Homo sapiens: one gene and its partners. The protein of the gene in region 2 purifies or fractionates together with the protein of the main gene of each other region. This does not show direct contact. Each region holds a gene or a part of one and is shown on either strand. Other genes may lie near its edges.

The links. The genes of interacting proteins can lie anywhere in the genome.
Region 1: the proteins of SCGB1D4 (region 2) and CNTNAP3 purify together in Homo sapiens (affinity purification with mass spectrometry; 2 studies listed by BioGRID and IntAct, with this or other methods). This does not show direct contact.
Region 3: the proteins of SCGB1D4 (region 2) and SCARB1 purify together in Homo sapiens (affinity purification with mass spectrometry; 2 studies listed by BioGRID and IntAct, with this or other methods). This does not show direct contact.

What each region holds. Positions count from the first base shown.
Region 1 is NC_000009.12:39,278,158-39,285,187, reverse strand, and holds part of CNTNAP3 (contactin-associated protein-like 3 isoform 1 precursor), read left to right. Parts: intron 1-7,030.
Region 2 is NC_000011.10:62,296,046-62,303,128, reverse strand, and holds SCGB1D4 (secretoglobin family 1D member 4 precursor), read left to right. Parts: upstream 1-4,053; 5' UTR 4,054-4,118; coding exon 4,119-4,173; intron 4,174-5,470; coding exon 5,471-5,657; intron 5,658-6,709; coding exon 6,710-6,719; 3' UTR 6,720-6,848; downstream 6,849-7,083.
Region 3 is NC_000012.12:124,811,855-124,818,884, forward strand, and holds part of SCARB1 (scavenger receptor class B member 1), read right to left. Parts: intron 5,854-7,030; coding exon 5,696-5,853; intron 3,261-5,695; coding exon 3,119-3,260; intron 2,552-3,118; coding exon 2,348-2,551; intron 112-2,347; coding exon 16-111; intron 1-15. UniProt on the Homo sapiens protein: Receptor for different ligands such as phospholipids, cholesterol ester, lipoproteins, phosphatidylserine and apoptotic cells. Receptor for HDL, mediating selective uptake of cholesteryl ether and HDL-dependent cholesterol efflux.

The DNA.
Region 1 (7,030 bases), on a different chromosome or scaffold from region 2:
TATTCATTACTTAGCCTAAAACACTTTTAATTTTAATTGCCTCAATTTTTTCCCCTAAATGGTTATGTTTTGCAAGTTCGCCAGCCAGCCTGGGGAAAGAAGGGTAAGCCTACTATAGAGTGTGTGTGGGTTAGTTAGGAAACTCACTTAGATGTGAAATGTGTCAGGAAAGAGATCTCACAGAGTGTAGGAATAATTATTTTTACAGATGTTTCATTTTGGACCTTTTAGTAATACCATTTAAAGAGAGATTCTGCAGATGAGTAACAGACTCTTAATTTTAGTGTCAAATGGTACTCTATAAAAAATGGAGTTCAGGCCAGGCGCGGTGGCTCACACCTGTAATCCCAGCACTTTGGGAGGCTGAGGTGGGTGGATCAGTTGAGGTCGGGAGTTCGAAACCAGGCTGGACAACACGGTGAAACCCCGTCTCTACTAAAAATATGAAAAAATTTCAGGGCATGGTGGCAGGTGCCTGTGAGGAGGCAGTGAGCTGAGATCGTGCCACTGCACTCCAGCCTGGGTGACAGAGTGAGACTCTGTCTCAAAAAAAAAACCAAAAAATGTAGTTCAGTTGCCTTTATTCATTTTCACCAAACTCTATACAAACAGTACGGAGCATAAGTAGCCCATGGAAGTGATAATCAATTCCAAGACATTGGTTTGATCATGAAAAAAGAAAAATCAAATTACTTGGCGTTCTTCTTCCTCTTCCTCTCCCCTTCTCTTTTTGAACAATTCAGTCCAAGGTCATTCAGTTCAGCTTAGGCATCCATGCTGGGTAGTGGGGAGGCCCAGGACCGTGGCAGAGCATTCAGAAACCAGCAGGGTAAGGAAAGCATCCACAGTGTAGCAAGGGTGGGGACCTGGAGAGACAGGAGACAGCACTGGTGGTGACCTATAGCAAGTTGTCAGAGGTTGAGTGGAGTGAGGAAGGAGGCATTCCAGATTGACGGAGGCTAAGAAAACAAGGCAACTAAATACTACTCTGCATTAAATGCTTATGTTATAAAGGACATGATTGGGAATTGGTGCAACTTGAACAAGATTGGGGATTAAATATTGGAACTTTATCCATGATGACTGGGATGATCATATTATGGTTATATAGGAGAACATCTTTGTTGTAGGAAATGTACATTGAAGTATTCAGGGGTGATACAGCATATTAGCGTAGTTCTTCCATGTTTTCTGTAAATTGGTTTCAAAATCAAATGGTTACTTTAAAAAACCATTCAAAATTGTGTTTAAAGGAAACATGGACCAATAGAAAAACTCAGAATAAGTAAATGTAGTTAAATTGATGCATTTTACCTAAGAGATGTAGATTAAAAATAAAGAGGCTGAAAAAAAAACAGTTATGAGAAATAACAGTTCATTTATGTATGTCTCTAAATCAAATTAGCCTGGATTTCTGAATGACAAAGATGTGATTGGCACTGGGATTGTTCCCCATTCTTTTCGGGAAGTTTATTGCCTAGGACATCTGTATCAGTCTTCAAAGTACTTTTTAAAGCTTGAATATCTGAATGAACCCGTCAGACTGACTGTTATCTGGTCTTCTGTAATGGGCTTCCGCACCTTTGACGAGACTCTTAGCTGAAAGGTTGCTTGTCCCTAGGCCCGGTTGCTCCACGTTGTAAGAGCATTTGCAAACGCTTGGTTGTACATGATTGTGCACATGTCAAGTCTGCTCTGTCACTGTAGAAAAAATATTCCTTTTCACTTGACATATAAAGCATGGAATTGTTTGTTTTAAATGTCTTTTGTCAAGGATTTCATATATCTGCTTGATGTGTTGTACTGTATAAAAGACAAGTGTGAAATTCATTGCTTACTATGATAGCCTTAACAGGACTACAGTAAATCTAGTTTTCTAAAAAATGGAGTATATGCTTAGCTTGGTTAAAATTTTATAATGAAATGACTACTCTGGTAATAAAAATTAAAAAATATCATAAAGTGGGGGCTAAAAAATGATACTGCATGTGTTCCAGTTAATGAACATTTTTGTTGTAATAATACGAAGAGTGATTGAAATCTAAAAACATTTGAGATTTTAAAATAGTTTTAACCTTATAACTACAGGATTGTAATTTAAGTAGCATACCTACTTAATAAGGCAGCAATTAAAATTATTGCTAAGAATTAAATTACCAAGAAGACATGGTCTAGTATGTATTGCCTGGGCTGTGGTTTGAATTACTTTTGATTAAGTATAATCACATTTTTTGAGAGTATAAAAACAGAGGATATTACTTGCTTCTAATTCACAGATGTGTTTATGAACCATTGGCAATTAAAGCATTTGCAATTGAGGCCCTAAGAAAATTTTAGGTTAAAATAACATGTTGAGTTATGCCTTATAACTCAGTATATGCTTATACTTTATATGCTTTACGGAGTTTTGAATATATAATATATATATATAATAGTATATTTTTCCAGGAAATATATAACTTGTAGTTCCTTGACTTATTTTGTAACTAAATCCCATGGAAAAAAGTTTATTGAATGTCATTGTTTCTCAGGCAAATGTAGAGTTAGGAAAATGATATATATACATATTGGGAATCTTTTAGAAGGCTTGGACTTGGTAGCTCAAATCTTCTACAACCTTGAGCTTCAACTTTCTGGCCGGTTCAAGAGATCTCTTCACTGTCCTTTTCATGTAAAGTCAATGTTTATGGAACACTAGACCAAAATGGAAGGATTCCTTTGGAAACTGAACAAACAGTTGAATTAGTCTTTGACTTGATGGAGTGATTTGATCTAAAATATTACCTAACCGTTTTAGATATCTGTTCAATCAGAGCTGCCTCCATATACGCAAATGATAATTTGTCTTGGATTTTTAGATATCTTAGCCCTCAGACAAGCTAATAGAGTTTAAATTGAACCTGGTGTTTTAGGGACAGTTGAATTGTTGGGATGCCCAGGAAAACAGTCACATTTTTCTATAAGTATGTGTTTATTTGGCTGGAATGTGGGTGAGGAAGAAGTTATATGTGAATTAAAAGAAACATTGTCTCAATGTCACATGTTAAATTAAATTAAATTACAGGCAGAACTAAGCGAGTTTACGATTGCTGCCGCTGGGAGCAGAGACTATTTTCAGCTTACATTTATAACAGAAGGAGGGATTTAAAATATAGTATTATGCCTACCCTGATACAGCTAACCTCCTCCACCCGCCCCTCCACACACATACAGCTACATGCTTACCCTCGAACTATGAAAGAAGGGTGTCTCTCAGGCATCCTATATTTAACCCAGCTTTGGACACGTCCCTGGAGTCTAGTCTTTTTGAACACAGCAGTGAAGATAAGGAATGGGGAGGGGGCTTTGATTTCAAGACCACTAGATATAGTAGATTCCTAATTTAATTTCAAAGACAAATCAATTATTAACACAAATACAAAGAGAACAGTATTTTAAGCAAAGCTTCTGTTGTGGCAGATAACCTTTTAAGGTGTCTCCCAGTTGGGTTTCTATTTTAGATGACTTTTTGAAGAATATATCTCTGTAATAGAAATATGTTTGATGATTCTCATCTTTAAGAACTTCACATTTGCTATAATTAAGATATTTATGAATTTATTGTAAGAAGATTGGTAGAAAAAGTAATGCAACATCAAATGGGAAAATAAATATATAATATTATATAGCTGTTCAAATATAGGGTTTATGATTCTTGAGCTAATTTGAACTGCTGTACAACACCAGGAGAAAAGTCCACAGCTGTGTTAAGAAAGCTCTTATAAGCTTATGAAATTTTATAGCACAGGCTGTCACAGAACCTACAATTTACAAACATTTGTAAAAGTTAGGAAAGTTTTGGGTTCCTCAATAGAAAATGATGTTGCTTAGCTTTAAGAAAGTAACTAATTTATCTCTTTTTATTCTTGTCCACTAACAAAGGAACCCAAATGGTCTTTTAAAATTATAATAAAACTAAGCTAGTAAAATATCACATAGATTTTGAGATACTGTGAATAACCATAGAAAATAACAATTTGTTGTTCTTCATGTATAAAAATAAGCTTAACATGCTTATCAATACATCTTGAACCATAAGAGATTTATTTCAGCAGTGTTGCCAAAGGGCAAGCAATGCCTGCTGCCCGTAGAAAACTTTGAATTCCCTAAGCTCAGGGCTCCTCACTTGTCATGTAACCCACTGCGTGTGCACACATCCATCTGTGCCCATCCATATTCCCCCAGAGGACTTGGAGGCAAGGAAATTGATGCAAATATGCTGATGCTCATATTGTTTGCTATGCTGTAAGTAATACAGTCCTTTGCTTTGACCCAGGAGTCTTCTGCCGCAACGATGAAACAAACTGGCAGACTCATTTGTTAGCTTGCAAGTAGGGTAAAATCTCTCCTCACGGTTCTTCACAGTGTACTTGTCTGTGCAATGGTCATCTTCTTCATGAATATAATTATAACATGATATAAGAAATAGTGAGCTCTTACCTATAGATAAGCAAACATTGCAATATAAAAATAGCATATGTTATTTCATAAATCACAGTTGACACATTCTAGAGAAGAGATTGGGCAGCCTTTTTTGGATGTCACAGTTGATTCTACTGTCCTCATTTCTTCTTCTCTTTTCTGGGATATGAGGAAGAATTGCTGTGACAAAGCTCATCTCCTGGGTGGCCAGGGTTGATTGTCAATTTGTTTTGTTCTTGGAAGGCTAGGCAGATGTCCTCTACCTCCTTCTTTATGCCATGTGACGTTCATCCCTTTGATTTTCCTGTTGCATTTTATTTAGTATTTTAGAATACTGCCCACATTCCATTCTGGAAAGTCCACTCTCCCAGCCAGAGTTTTCTTAGACAGCTGAGCCTGTGATGGGCGTTTGTGCAGGTAGCCTCTTTTAGAAAGTGAGCTCATAAAAGAGGGAAGAATGGAATAGAGAAGAAAAATCCACCAAAAGGGGGTGTCATTGAGCTGGTCACTTCTGTGAGCAACTGGGGCATGAACTCCCTGGGAAGCTCTCAGGAAGCCGGTAGAATGTGTTTCACAGCTGTGCCTCTGAGAGACAGCAGGGGGAATGCATTTATCCCAAGTCCTGTCCAGGGATTCAGCACTGCCCTTGGGGCGCTAACTCCTGGCTCTAAGGAGAGGAATATGAATGAATGGGTTGCGACTGGGTTTCTGCAGGCATCACAGAGGCCAAGAGACAGAGAACTCGAACACTGAACTTTTTAATTTTTTATTATTTTATTATTATTATACTTTAAGTTATAGGGTACATGTGCACAACGTGCAGGTTTGTTACATATGTATACATGTGCCATGTTGGTGTGCTGCACCCATTAACTAGTCATTTAGCATTAGGTATATCTCCTAATGCTATCCCTCCCCCGTACCCCCACCCCACGACAGTCCCCGTTGTGTAATGTTCCCCTTCCTGTGTCCATGTGTTCTCATTGTTCAGTTCCCACCTATGAGTGAGAACATGTGGTGTTTGGTTTTTTGTCCTTGCGATAGTTTGCTGAGAATGATGGTTTCCAGCTTCATCCATGTCCCTACAAAGGACATGAACTCATCATTTTTTATGGCTGCATAGTATTCCATGGTGTATATGTGCCACATTTTCTTAATCCAGTCTATCATTGATTGACATTTGGGTTGGTTCCAAGTCTTGTTATTGTGAATAGTGCTGCAATAAACATACGTGTGCATGTGTCTTTATAGCAGCATGATTTATAATCCTTTGGGTATATACCCAGTAATGGGATGGCTGGGTCAAATGGTATTTCTAGTTCTAGATCCCTGAGGAATTGCCACACCGACTTCCACAATGGTTGTACTAGTTTACAGTCCCACCAACAGTGTAAAAGTGTTCCTATTTCTCCACATCCTCTCCAGCACCTGTTGTTTCCTGACTTTTTAATGATTGTCATTCTAACTGGTGTGAGATGGTATCTCATTGTGGTTTTTGATTTGCATTTGATTGCCAGTGGTGATGAGCATTTTTTCATGTGTTTTTTGGCTGCATGGATGTCTTCTTTTGAGAAGTGTCTGTTCATATCCTTTGCCCACTTTTTGATGGGATTGTTGGTTTTTTTCTTGTAAATTTGTTTGAGTTCATTGTAGATTCTGGATATTAGCCCTTTGTCAGATGAGTAGGTTGCAAAAATTTCCTCCCATTCTGTAGGTTGCCTGTTCACTCTGATTGTAGTTTCTTTTGCTCTGTAGAAGCTCTTTAGTTTAATTAGATCCCATTTGTCAATTTTGGCTTTAGTTGCCATTGCTTTTGGTGTTTTAGACATGAAGTCCTTGCCCATGACTGTGTCCTGAATGGTATTGCCTAGGTTTTCTTCTAGGGTTTTTATGGTTTTAGGTCTAACATTTAAGTCTTTAATCCATCTTGAATTAATTTTTGTATAAGGTGTAAGGAAGGGATCCAGTTTCAGCTTTCTACTTATGGCTAGCCAGTTTTCCCAGCACCGTTTATTAAATAGGGAATCCTTTCCCCAATGCTTATTTTTGTCAGGTTTCTCAAAGATCAGATAGTTGTAGATATGCGGCATTATTTCTGAGGGCTCTGTTCTGTTCTGTTCTATATCTCTGTTTTGGTACCAGTACCATGCTGTTTTGGTTACTGTAGCCTTGTAGTATAGTTTGAAGTCAGGTAGTGTGATGCCTCCAGGTTTGTTCTTTTGGCTTAGGATTGACTTGGCAATGCGGGCTCTTTTTTGGTTCCAAATGAACTTTAAAGTAGTTTTTTCCAATTCTGTGAATAAAGTCATTGGTAGCTTGATGGGGATGGCATTGAATCTATAAATTACCTTGGGCAGTATGGCCATTTTCATGATACTGATTCTTCCTACCCATGAGCATGGAATGTTCTTTCGTTTGTTTGTATCCTCTTTTATTTCCTTGAGCAGTGGTTTGTAGTTCTCCTTGAAGAGGTCCTTCACATCCCTTGTAAGTTGGATTCCTAGGTATTTTATCCTCTTTGAAGCAATTGTGAATGGGAGTTCACTCATGATTTGGCTCTCTGTTTGTC
Region 2 (7,083 bases):
GACACAACAAAAAAAGAAAATTTCAGGCTAATCTCCCGGATGAACATCGATGAGAAAATCCTCAATAAAATACTGGCAAATTGAATCCAGCAGCACATAAAAAAAGCTATCCACCACGATCAAGTCAGCTTCATCCCTGGGATGAAAGGCGGGTTGAACATATGCAAATCAATAAATATAATCCATCACATAAACAGAACCAATGACAAAAACCACATGATAATCTCAATAGATGCAGAAAAGGCCTTTGATAAAATTCAACAGCCCTTCATGCTAAAAACTCTCAATAAACTAGGTATTGATGGAACATATCTCAAAATAATAAGAGCTATTTATGACAAGCCCACAGCCAATATCATATGAATGGGCAAAAGCTGGAAGCATTCCCTTTGAAAACTGGCACAAGACAAGGATGCCCTCTCTCACCACTCCTATTCAACACAGTATTGGAAGTTCTGGCCAGGGCAATCAGGCAAGAGAAAGAAATAAAGGGTATTCAAATAGGAAAAGAGGAAATCCAATTGTCTCTGTTTGCAGATGACATGATTGTATATTTAGAAAACACCATCAACTGACAAAGAAGTGTATTTATCTCTGTGGTTTACAATAACTTTACCCTTCACCTTTTATTTTTGGTGAAAAACCTGGTTAGTAAGCAATTTTAATTATGTTCCAGCTGTGGATCCTAGGACCCAGACAGAAGTGCAGATAAAGTCTGACTTTTCAGCTTCTAGCTCCATGAGTCCCAGGCCTTACCTATGTGTAAAGCAGGCAGTATATGACCTTGCAACATTTAGCAAACCTGGTATCTAAATTATATGATTTAGACAACCTATTTGCATTTTGATGACACTTGCCTTTTACTAATAATCCTTCAGACTATTTTTATTTCTTCAAGTCATGTGAACTAAAACATTTGATTGAAGCACTTATTTTTCTTTAAGCCAATCAATCAGAGCTCTTTTTATAGACATCACACACAGCACATATATAGCAACACTAAGAAACAGAAGATTCAGCACTTGTAAGATTTTTCACTTGGTAGTCTCTTAATTGGATTACTGGCTTTAGGGTGGAGCCCTTGAAGGAACAGGGCTATGTAGCATACCTAATAAACAGACGCAGCTGAAGGCAAAGGCAGATCCCTAAAATTAAGGGTGCCATTTTATACCTGATCTTGGGTCCCTAAAAGGAGGGAGATACTATGGGAGAAGACAGTGTAGTGGTTCTATCACGTATTTCACTGCAAGGGAACCCAAAGCCAATTGGCTTATTCTGTAATGAGCCCATTCCCCATGGGAGTCTCGTCTCTTAGTTGGGGGTGAGGATGTTGCCATATCTTTCAGGTGGCCAAGAGCACGCTTCTTTGATTATAACTACTATTAGCCATCCCTAACATTGAATTTTCTATCTAGTTATTACACACCGAAGCTCTCTCATAGTGTGAAGTAATTTGACACCCCCAAAACTCAAAATGGTAGATTACACAATACATAACAGAACAGAGCCTTTGATTTTGAGAAGTAACTGCTTTTAATTTTGGGGGTTTCATGAGGAAAACAGTTTTTTTTTTTTCCCCAAAATGGGGTCTGTGGTGCCTCCTCTGTTTTTCCCAAGGAGTCCCATGCTACCAGAAGTTATCTTAGGGCTTCTCATGCTTGCATTAAGAATGGTAAGATGAAAAATGGAGAAAAATAATTCAGTTGATTGAAAAGAAAAGAGCCTTTTTCCCAAAAAACAAGATTCAACAAGAGAAAAGCATAAAGACCTTTTCAATATACCTATAACTTGAACATATCCACTTTTAATTAAGCTGAGCACTTTTAAAGAAAATCCTTTTAAATTCCTTGTTACTTGAGATTGCTGCAAATGAGAGGTGCATGGTTCCAGCAGAGTCTATGAAGGGGAGTATTGAACAAGTCATCGGGGTCAGGCAACGATGTCCATGGATGGAAAGAATAAACTAAAATCTTGAGTCAATTGTGTAAAAAGGAGGGAGCCATAAAAAGCATCAATGATGAAAACAAAAAAACCCTGCATAGGTGTTAATCGTGGTAGGACTAATAAAAGTATACGCAAACAATCCTCTGTCAGAGATACACATGCTCCCCAATGGACTGTACAGATGACAAGGTGAATGTCAAGCCTGAGTGAGGATAAACTCTCATCCACAAAAAGGGTGGATGCTTCACAGACCTGTCTACTGCAAAAGAGGCCTCAGTCCTGAAGCCCATATTCATGGGTTTGCAGCCTCCAAGACCATGAGCTGGGTTTCCTTTTCCATTTATGTCAAAGAGAAATGGTGTATCTAGGTGTCCGTGTAGTTCTGCAAGTAGGTGATTTAGTGGATTTTGGCTGTGCTCTAAACTAGGAACTACTGGCAAACCATGACATATATGACAAATGGGACAAGATAATGGCAGTTTACATTGAGAACTACTATGTACCAGAACTTGGTATATTTTAAACACACACACACCCATGAACACACTCATTTGATCATCTATCAACCCAATGATGTAGGCACCATTAGTAGCCTACTTTGACAAATGAGAAAACTGGGGTTACATAAACTGAATAATTTTCCTAAGGTCCAGGAGCCCATAAATGAGGATCTGAACCCTCATAGCTGTAAACCTCACCACCAACCCTCCCCCTCCTTGGTGGCAGCAGGGCTGATTCAGGGACTCCGTCGTCATCCTGTGTGATGAAAGTGAGATCCACTGTTGCCCTCAGCTTGGACTCAACTAAATCTGTCAATGTGTCTTTGATGACAAAACCCGTAAGGTCCCCTTCCTTCTTAAAGGTTTTCCTGGCTGGATCTCAGCCCTGCTGTCTGTGAGAAACACCAGAGCAGTTTAAACAGTACAGAAAGGAGGGATTCACCCCAATGCTACTGAATCAAAATCGCCAGAGAGAGAAGCCTGTGGGGTCAGTATGTTTTAAAAGCTCCAAGTGATTTGACTACATAGCTGAGAATGGAAAGCTATGGCCTGGGCTGTGACTCCTCTCAAATGTAAGTTTATTTAAGAGAAAAATTTCTGGTGATTAAACTCACACCACATGAAGGCACGGCAATGGGAGGGAAGGCGGGTGTGTATTGCTTTGTCTGGGGGCTTCCTTCACTTTCCCTTAAAAATGGGATTGGCCCAGGCAGCACAGATAGGTTTGAAGTGGAAAACTTGAGCCTAGGGGTTAGGGGGAAGTGACCACCCACCCTGTTCCTCTGTCTCTTCCCTTCTATTATCTTCCCAGCCTAGAGCCCCACTGATGTATGATTGGCTCTGAACACTCCAAAAGCTCTTGAGAAAAAGAGTTAGGTTATTTAATCTTCAGATCAGCCCTAAGATAAGACGTGGGTGGCTACACATCACAGAAAGCTTGCTTTTTATAGATAGAAAATGTGAATCTTGGCCATATATATAACTGCACGTATAAACAAGATTCAGGTTTGGGAGTGAGGCAGGCTAGAGAACAGGTGCAGCAGATGTTTTTCCTCAGCATATCTTCTACAGGTGGGATGTATTCAACTATGTTTTCAGTACCTATGCAGTGAACATGGTGGTGATGGAAGGGGCTGAGGGGAAGGATTAGACTTTCCCAATGTGCAACTGAAACAAGCCTGCTTGTTGTCAGACATGCAGGGGGATCAAAGCAGGGTCTCCTTATGTCCCTGCTCTCCCATAAAGAGAACACAGCCTTCCAGCTTCCTGTGCCTTGTGAAGCCATAATTCACCTGTGCCCCTGCACTGCTACAAAGATAAAAAGAACTAATCAGCAAAAGCTCATAAGGAAATTGAGGATCCCAGGAACATTTCCAGATGTACCTGAACACTCACCTGGAGCACAGAGCAGAGTTCTCACAAGGCTGCTGTCTTGTGCTCCGCCCCACTCAGATGCAGAGATTCCTAAGGAGGTGACATTGATGGACGGCAGCAGCCCTGGCTTGGAAGGGCGGGCTGGGAGCCAGGCCTCATGACCTACCAGGTGCCCCGGTAGGTAGGACCAGCCAGGCTCCCTAGGTACAAATAGCCCTGGCCTCCATGACTACACAGGCTCCTGGAGTCGAATCCAAATCACTCATTGTGAAAGCTGAGCTCACAGCCGAATAAGCCACCATGAGGCTGTCAGTGTGTCTCCTGATGGTCTCGCTGGCCCTTTGCTGCTACCAGGGTGAGTACATCAGTCATGAGTCCAGCACCAGCCCCTGGGATGCACCCTCTTCTGAGCACAAGATCACCTATTTGTGCTTTGGGTTGGGGTCTGCACAAAACCAAACAAAATTCCAAACCCTTTTCTGTGCTTGTTGAATAAGATTCATAAAGGTTAGAGCTATTTCTTCTTTCTTCTTCCTTTTTTTTTTTTTTTTTTTGAGAAGTTTTGCTCTTGTTGCCCAGGCTGGAGTGCAGTGGCATGATCTTGGCTCACTGCAACCTCTGCCTCCGGGGTTCAAGTGATTCTCCTGCCTCAGCCTTCCTGAGCAGCTGGGATTACAGGCATGGGCCACCACAGCTGGCTAATTTTGTATTTTTAGTAGAGATGGGGTTTCTCCATGTTGGTCAGGCTGGTCTCGAACTCCCGACCTCAGATGATCTGCCCGCCTCGGCCTCCTAAAGTGCTGGGATAACAGGCATGAGCTACTGCGCCTGGCTGCTTAGAGCTATTTCTTCTAATCCCCAGTATCTAAGAAGTTTTATAGAAAAATCAGTTCAGGCAAATGTTAGGAATTCTTCTGCCTGAGCTTCACTTCTGAATGGGATCTGTGTCAGATGATGTAATGTGAGGTCTGGGGTGAACCTGGGCTTCGACACTTCCCACCCCTTGATCTTGGGCACAATGCTCACCCTCCTTGAGCCTCCTCTTATCACTGGTGGTTAAAGCTTCTGCCAGGAGTGGCTATGAGAATGAAGTAAGGTTATGGTTGTCAAGAGTCAAGCTGTGGGCCAGGCATGGTGTCTCATTCCTGTAATCTTAGCACTTTGGGAGGCCACAGTGGGCAGATCACTTGAGCTCAGGAGTTCAGCACCAGCCTGGGCAACATGGCGAAACCCCATCTCTACAAAAAAAAAAAACAAAACAAAACACACACACACACACACACACACACACACACACACAAAAGCGGGCATGGTGGCAGGCACTGGTAGTCTCAGCTACTTTGGGGGCTGAGGGAGGATCGCTTGAGCCCAAGACATTCAGGCTGCAGTGAGCCGAGATTGTGCCACTGCATTCCAGTCTGGGTGAACCTATCTCAAAAAAAAGAAAAAGAAGTCTAGCTGAGGATATGAAGCTCTTCCCTTTGTTGTGTGACCCGGAGAAAGTCACACCTGGAGTTTCTGGTATTGTCATCAGCACAATAATGGTATAGAAACATAGAACCCAGGGGATCCTGTCTGGTGTAACCTCAGGGAGCCATGAGAGAAAAATCGACTTTCCTAACATCAACAATATTTTTATTTTTGTGCTGCAGCCCATGCTCTTGTCTGCCCAGCTGTTGCTTCTGAGATCACAGTCTTCTTATTCTTAAGTGACGCTGCGGTAAACCTCCAAGTTGCCAAACTTAATCCACCTCCAGAAGCTCTTGCAGCCAAGTTGGAAGTGAAGCACTGCACCGATCAGATATCTTTTAAGAAACGACTCTCATTGAAAAAGTCCTGGTAATTTCTTTCTCCTTTATGCAGAGGCAGAATTCAACTCAGCTGCACACAGCCTCCTGCATGTTTCTTGTCAGGTCACCTGCCTGGATGCTGTGTCCCCAGAGTGTGCTGAGGACATGGGGAGTGAGCTAGGGCCAAGGCAGGGATGGTGAAGGGCCAAGCACGGCCGCCTCCCTGCTGGGATCTTTCCTGAGGTCAACCTACCCTCACGCAGTGGACACGGTCACTATGGGATGTCCCAGGGAGTGTGGGAGATTTGAACAGGGAGAGGAGGCTTGAGGGGACCTAGAGCTGGGCCTCCCACAGACAGGGTGCTGGTGAACTGGGCTCCTGTGCAGCTTCTGCAGAGCCAGGAGCCCCTTGCAGCTCCTCAGGGCCCACTATCCACTCCTCATCCATGACACTCTCCTGACCACAGCCAGTGGGCCAAGACTTTTTCGCTGCTCTACCTACTGCAACGCCACACAAGTGGGATGTTCTCACTATGTCTTTCTCAAGAAATCAGAGATTCCAGGGCCCTCTCAGCCTGGCTGCCTCTGGATTGTTGTCCTGAGGTTTGGCTGCAAATACCCATAGAAGCTGCAGGGTCAGGGCTGATAAGACCCCTGGCCGTTAGGCAGAATTCTCCCATGGGAAGACTGGAGTCTCCTGGAAGGTGTGTTTCCCAGAAGCCCTCCCTGCCCTGCCTGGCTTCAGAGCCCTGGGTCCCCCATTACAGGGATCAGGAGACTCCACAGACCTGGGACAGCCCAGACAACAACCTCTTGCTGCACTGTCAACCCCTCCCCTCCTCCTCCATGAAAACCCTGGGCCTAACTCCTGGGTCTTCCCAGGTCTATTGGTCTGGTGGGGAAAGGCTGCTTTCTCACCAGAATGGGTGTTGTAAGGCCACCAGGTCTAGGCCTCAGTTTCCCAAACTGAATTCTTGCCTCTGCCTTTCCAATTGCCATTGGGGCAAAATCCCATTGGCCTCTTTGATGTTAGCCTATCATCACCAGCAGCAGCATGACTGACCTCACCTTTCTTTCTTTCTTTCTTTTTTTTGATTTCAGGTGGAAATAGTGAAAAAATGTGGTGTGTGACATGTAAAAATGCTCAACCTGGTTTCCAAAGTCTTTCAACGACACCCTGATCTTCACTAAAAATTGTAAAGGTTTCAACACGTTGCTTTAATAAATCACTTGCCCTGCACATCTCCACTGGTCTTGTTATGATCCTGCAGTCTCGGGCCTTGAATCGAGGGTGGTTTCCATAGGGGAGTGGACTTTTGCTGTGGCTGATAATCAACTCTAGAGTAACCAGCATTCTGTTACTAATGGGGCCTGAATGCAAGCATCCCAGAAGGAAATATTTGCAGAAATCATCCTGGATTCCTTACAGATTTCCCATCCTGCGTTCGCGAATGAAAACCATGGCAATAGAAAAC
Region 3 (7,030 bases), on a different chromosome or scaffold from region 2:
CCTCTCGCCCCTCACCTTGCTCAGCCCGTTCCACTTGTCCACGAGGTGGATCCTGCTGATGTTCTGGACCCCCGTGAACACCGTGAAGAGCCCAGAGTCGGAGTTGTTGAGCTACAGACACAGCAGGGAACAGCATCGTAAGGCTTAGGCCTGCCATTGAGCCGGCCTGGTCTGAACATTCTGGGCTGAGCCCTCCTCCCCCTCCACCAGAAGGACAGGGCCCCCAGCATCTGGTTCACTGCCAAATGCCCAGTGTCTGGGGACCGAGAGGAGGCTTGGGAGCTTTCTAGGAGGAATGGTCCCGGGTTCTGTGGCTGCAGTGTTCCACCCTCCCTTCCTAACTCCAGGAGAGTCTGGCTTTCCTCCCAGGTAAATGGCAGATCACCCCCACCACACCCTACTCCAGCATAAAATAAAGCATGGCCAGGTCAGCTCCCTGAGCAATGAAAAAGGAGAAGTGGCATGTCACTTGGGGGGATGCTTTAAGGACTGTGCACACGCCTTTCACCGGGCTCTCTGCCGCTGCTATAGCAGCCAAGGAGGTATGTGTCAAGACAGAGCCTCCCTCAGCCTGGATCCCCAAGTGACCACCACAAGCGCGGGTGCCCCAGTCACCCACACTGGACGTGGAGTGCAAGCAAAGGAATAAGTCTTGGTTGTTCTAAGCCATGGAGATTCCGGGGCTGCTTGTCACAGCAGCAAAACCTGGCCTGTCCTAACCCATCGAGGTTCTTGATAGTGGGGCCCAGGCTTTGGTGCTCCGAGAGCATTTCCCAGAAGCTGGTTTCTAATCCCAAAGACATGCAAAGCACAAAGTGGTATGAGTGACTGAAGGAAATATCTAGAAGTGCTTTGCAGGGTGGAGCACACTGAGGAGCTCCAAGGTTGCCCGGCTGAGTGACTGCACCCATCACAGACCTCCAGAGCAGGACCCAGCACAAGGCCCCAGCCCAGCATCCCGGGTGTGTCTGTCACGTGCCCATGTGGAGCCAAGAATAACCAGAGCCACTACAAAGGGGAGCATTAAAGGGACTCATGTGCAAAAACGGCCAGGTACAGTGCACCGGACACAGTAAGAGCTCAAAATGATAGTCTTTATTTTCATTATTATTGTTATTATTAATAAATGCTCACCCAATAGGATACTTAAATGATCATTATAATGGACGGAGAGCATCAGAAACTGCCAGTTACTACCCAAAGCCCAATCTCTCCTTACTCTTTCATACAAAACCCAAACCATACTCAGAGCATCAGCACACCCAGCTAAAAGGCTACCTTTCCAGCTTCCCCTGGAGCTAGGTGTGGCCATGTGACTCAGTTCTGGCCAATAGAAAGGAAGTGGACATTGGTTTTCTTCCTCCCTAAGAGGGAGGAAACTGGAACACGCTGTTTTACCCCCAGTTCCTCCATCTGCTCCCCAAAGCCCCACCATTTTTTCCTTCTTGCTGTGCTGCCTGGAATGTGATGTGATTGCTGACACTCTAGCAGCCAACTTGGACAATGAGGTTATCTTGAGGATGAAAACCACATGCCAAGGATGGCAGAGCACAGTAGTAGAAGGCTTCCAGATCACTTAAGACCATGAAGCCACCACACCAACACTGAACAGCCTACCGCTAGACTTTTCTTGTGAGGTTTTCATTATATGCAGTCAAACGTAGATTATACTAAACTAGGGACTTTGTAATAACTTTCATTTGCAAAGCACTTCAGGATTTACAAGATGCCTTTACAGCATCATGCCACTTAGCCCAAACTTGCTCATTTACCCACACGACAGGAGCCCGTCACCCTTGACAAAAACGTACTGAGTATCTATCACACGCAGCACCACGATATCCCCCCCAGCACTCTACCCTGATCAGCAGAGACCAAAGAGATGGCTGAGGCTGGAGCAGTCCCAAGGACTCAGTGAAACCTGCGGTGAGGGAGCCAAGGTCAGGGTCAGACCCTCCATGGACGAGATGTTGGCTCCGAAGCCCAGTCAGTGACCCTACCAGGTTGCCAAGAGTCAAGATTAAGAGTCAGCTTGTGATATTACTCCCCAGCAGCCATGCCCCCTTCCTCCAGCAAAGCCTCCAATTTGCTAAGCTAAGGCCCAGTCACATCATTTGAGCCTGGATCAAGCTGTACCTGAATCCAACCCTAGCATTTTCAGTTCTATGAGCCCCAACATTCCCCATTTCACTCAAGCCGGTTTGAGTCAGGTTCTCAGTCACTTACAACCCACAGCCACTAGATCCCCAGCCAGCTACAAAGCAAGCTGGTGACCAGTGTCCAGGCTGTGTGAGGGGAAGACAGGACACAGGCCTGAATCTTTGGCTTCTCACCAGGCCACACGTACCTCAGCAAATAATCCGAACTTGTCCTTGAAGGGGAACATGCCTGGAAAGTACTTGTTGATGAGATTCACAAGGGGGTCCTTGTAGCCCCACATGATCTCACCCACAGTGCGGTTCATGAAGGCACGTTCGCCGAGGGTGGTGAATGCCAAGGTCATGATGAGCTTCAGGGTCATGGGCTTATTCTCCATCATCACCGCCGCACCCTGCAAGGCGAAGGGACACTAGTGTCAGAGGCTGGACGTGGCTGGCCCATCCTCCCTTGGCCCCAGCTGGGCCTCACAGCAAAGAGCCCATGAAGGGAAATGCTGGGGTGCAGGAGGCCCCTGGAGTGGCCACGTGGGGCATCTGGGACACCAGAACCACCCTCTGCTCCTCCAGTGCCAAGGCCACATGTGCTCCCGAGAACCCCTTCTCCCCCTTGCACCCCACTGGACTCAGGCTAAGTGAACTCCAGCCCCAGTCCCAGAGGCGGGCCTGTGGCTCAGCCCTCAACAAGACAGCCCCTTTTGGAGATCTCAGAAATGTAAATTGAAAAGGGAAAAAAAAGTACTTTGGCCAGGACTTCCAAACCAAGACAGGTGGACCCACCTGGGAAACTCAGAACCCACTGGGGGTGGTGGAGACAGCACAGGGCCGAAAGCCACCCACCAGGCGTGAGTCCCCACGCTCCGACCACCTCAGGGACTGCTCTCTGCACAAGGGGCAGGCGGGAGGAGAGACAGGGGACGAGGTCAGGGTGCGAGGCGGCGTGGGCCACAGGGCAGCCTCACCAAGACCAGGATGTTGGGCATGACGATGTAGTCGCTCTCCGAGCCGTGGGACTTGGAGGGCTGGAACTGGAAGGTGCGGTACTCGAGGAAGGACACGGTGTCGTTGTTGTTGAAGGTGATGTTGCTTTTGTGCCTGAACTCCCTGTGGGGGAAGCCAGTGGGTCAGACGCCCCGCCCCGCTGCATGGGACGTTTCCCTTCTACTCGCCTGCAATGCCTGCCTGGGAACCAGGGGCCCTGGACGTCTGTGCACACCTCCGGCCCCACAGCCAAAGCTGAGCTCGGCCCCTTCGCCAAGTCTGTCCCTCCCGCCGCCTGCCCACTGCAGGACATGGTGTCGCCGCCCACCCGGCCTCGTTCTGCTCTCCCCCACCCAACACGGCCATCGTCTCTCCATCTACAAAAGGAAGTAATCACAAGCCCTACTTCACAGGGCAGCTGTGGGGATTAAGCAATCAGATACCCAGAAAGCAATCAACACAGCCGCCGGGTGCAGAGAAAGCACGAGGTAAACATCAGCTGCTGTGACTGTTGCTGCTGCTGTCCTTATGATCTCTCATCTCTCCAAGCCACTCTCCACCATCCAGAAGAATCTTTGAAAAGTGGAAATCAGGTCGGGAGCAGTGGCTCATGCCTGTAAACCCAGCACTTTGGGAGGCTGAGGTGGGCAGATCACCTGATGTCAGGAGTTCAAGACCATCCTGCCCAACATGGCGAAACCACGTCTCTACTAAAAATACAAAAATTAGCTGGGCATGGTGGCAGATGCCTGTAATCCCAGCTACTCGGGAGGCTGAGGCAGGAGAATCGCTTGAACCTGGGGGGCGGACGTTGCAGTGAGCCGAGATCGCGCCACCGCACTCCAACCTGGGTGAAAGAGAGACTCCGTCTCAAAAAAAAAAGTAGAAATCAGATCGTGCCATGCTCTGGACCACAACCCCACTTTGCATGCAGGTTAAAATCAGGCTCCTAACGTGACCTCTGAGGCCCTCAGCAAGGCTCAGGCCTCGTCTCTCCACTGTCTCCCTCCCTCGTAACCCCAGCCGCACAGGCCTCTGTCCCAGCCTTCAGACCTTTGCACATGCTCTGCCCGGGACTCTGTCTCCCCAGGGCCTCTTCCCACCATGCGGGTCCAGTGAGTGTCCCTTTGCAGATGTGCTCCCGACCCTCCAGTCAGACCGAGCCCCAAGGCCACCCTCCCTCCTGCACTCCGGCTTCACACTGTTTTGTCTGCACAATACTGATGGCTGCCTGATTTCCCCTTATTTGTCCACTTCTTTACTCTCTCCCCATCAGAACATCAGCTTGGTGAGGCAGGGCCTTGGTCTGCCTGCGCCCCCAGCACACAGGAGGTGCTCAGTCAGTGCTCACAGAATGAAGGAGTATAGAGAGCTTTGGCATTTTTGCCCATTCTGTCCACTGCTGGGTCCCCTGTACTTAGAACGGCAGCCAACACCTAGCAGGTGCTCAGTAAACATTTGTTAAATGAACGAGCGAATGAGTGAATGAGTGAACGGAATGCAGCAGCTGATTCATGTTTCCCATTCCCAAACCTCAGGCACATTTGCTGGGTTTTCATCTTGGCTTTCCCAGAACCAGACTGTGGGTCTCCAACAGCGGGAACACCCTCTGCCCGCCCCATCCCTGGAACACCGTGTGCCGGGGGCAAGTCAGCTCCCCTGTCTGTGAACTGGGAAGTGGGGGTGTGGAGGAGGGGAGGTGCTGTGAAAACGCCAGGAGGTAAGGGAGTTGTAACAGGCACATCCGCCAGCCGTCTCAGAGCTCCGAGTGCATCCTGAGTGTCCCGGTGACCCCATGAAGGGGCTCTTGTGTCTCTCCAGTCTGCAGACGGGCAAACTGAGGCTCAGAGGAATGAAGTCACTTCCCCTAGGCCACAGCCAGGTACAGGACAAGCAGAAAGCAAAGGCACAACTCTGTGGTCCTTGGGCCAGCATGTTCCACAAACAGCTGACCCCTTCCCGTGCTGACCCACCCGGTCCTCTGGCCCAGATAGGGTCTGGGGGGTCGGTCCCTGCTCCTGGTCATGCATGTGTGTGTGTGTGTGTGTGTGTGTGTGTATGTGTGTATGCATGTGTAGGTACATGTGTGTGTATGTATGTGTGTGTGTATGTGTATGTACGTGTGTATGTATGTATGTGTGTATGTGTATGTGTATGTGTGTGTATGTATGTGTGTAACTCACACATGCACCCTCCACCCAGACGCACACCATTGGTCCCTCCCTGCTCCATAAAGAACCTCTCTAGGCAACGTCTGGTGATTCGCACCTGTAATCCCAGCACTTTGAGAGGCTGAGGCGGAGGATCGCTTGAGCCCAGGACTTCAAAACCAGCCTGGGCAACATAGCAAGATCCCATCTCTAAAAAAAAAAAAAAAAAAAAAAAAAACCCTAAAACAAAAACTTCTCTGGGACTAGCACTTACCCCGACTATGACTTGCCTGCTTCCGGAACAATCTCTGGGGCTCAGTCAGCAGCCTCCCCATCCCGTCCACTCTGAGACCCCTCCCCTGCCCAGCCTCAGCCGGCCCCTCCACCCTCACCTGGACACAGCCTCACCTGTACACGTAGGGCCCGCGCTCCCGCACCTGCGGCTTCTCGCCCTTCAGGATCTCGCTGGGGTTCATGACGTCAAAGAAGTAGACGGAGAGATAGAAGGGGATAGGGATCTCCTTCCACATGTTGAAGGACAGGCTACTGGGGTCGATGCGCACGTTCTGCAGGGGAAGGGACAAGTACGCTTGTGAGGAGAGTGATGAGGGCCCCACGCCCCACCACAAGGCTCCGGAACAGCTGCCCGAGCCCGGCCAGGGAAGGGGCTCCTCGGCGGGAGCTTGGGATAGGAGGTGGTGGGAAAGCCCTTCGCACATGAGGCTGTCGCACCTGGAGCTTATGGAATTAAACAGGCAACCTATCCATGCTGTCATAATGCATCTTAAAATATGTCCTAACAGCAACAGGTGACACCAGTCAAGGGACTGTGGTAAACAGGGGCCCATGCACCACCTAAAGGGAGCGCCGGAGCTCAGGGTAGCGGATGGGCTCAGGGCAGGGATAGCCTCATGCAGGAACATGGGCTCCGTGTGGCCAGGGGGATCATTCATTCATTCCACAAGCAAGCACTGAGCACTACCACCTGCCAGGCGGGTTCTAAGAGCTGGGGATGGGAGAATGACCAGGACAGACCAAAAGCCCAGCTATGTGGGGCTTTACCATAGCGGAGGAAAGGCAGGCACCAAACAACTCAGGTAAAACGCATGCCACGTGACAGAGCACAGAGAAAACACAGCAGGGATTGGGGAGAGACTGGGATTTGAGACAGTCATCACGTAAGTGAAATATAGGCCAGGCACCATGGCTCATGCCTGTAATCCCAGAACTTTGGGAGGCCGAGGTAGGAGGATCACCAGAGCCCAAGAGTTTGAGACCAGCCTGGGCAACATAGCAAGACCCTGTCTCTATAAAGAATAATTTTATTTATTTATTTATTTTTTGAGATGGAGTCTCACTCTGTTGCCCAGGCTGGAGTGCAGTGGCATGATCTTGGCTAACTGCAACCTCTGCTTCTGTGTTCAAGCGATTCTCCTGCCTTAGCCTCCTGAGTAGCTGGGACTACAGGCCCCCACCATCACGCCTGGCTAATTTTTGTATTTTTATTTTATTTTATTTTTTTGAGAGGGAGTCTTGCTCTGTGGCCCAGGTTGGACTGCAGTGGCGCGATCTCGGCTCACCGAAACCTCCATATTCCGGGTTCAAGCAGTTCTCCTCCCTCAGCCTCCCGAGTAGCTGGGACTACAGGCACCCACCACCATACCTGGTTAATTTTTGTTTTAGTTTTTGTTTTTGTTTTAGTAGAAGTGGGGTTTCACCACGTTGGCCAGGCTGGTCTCCTGA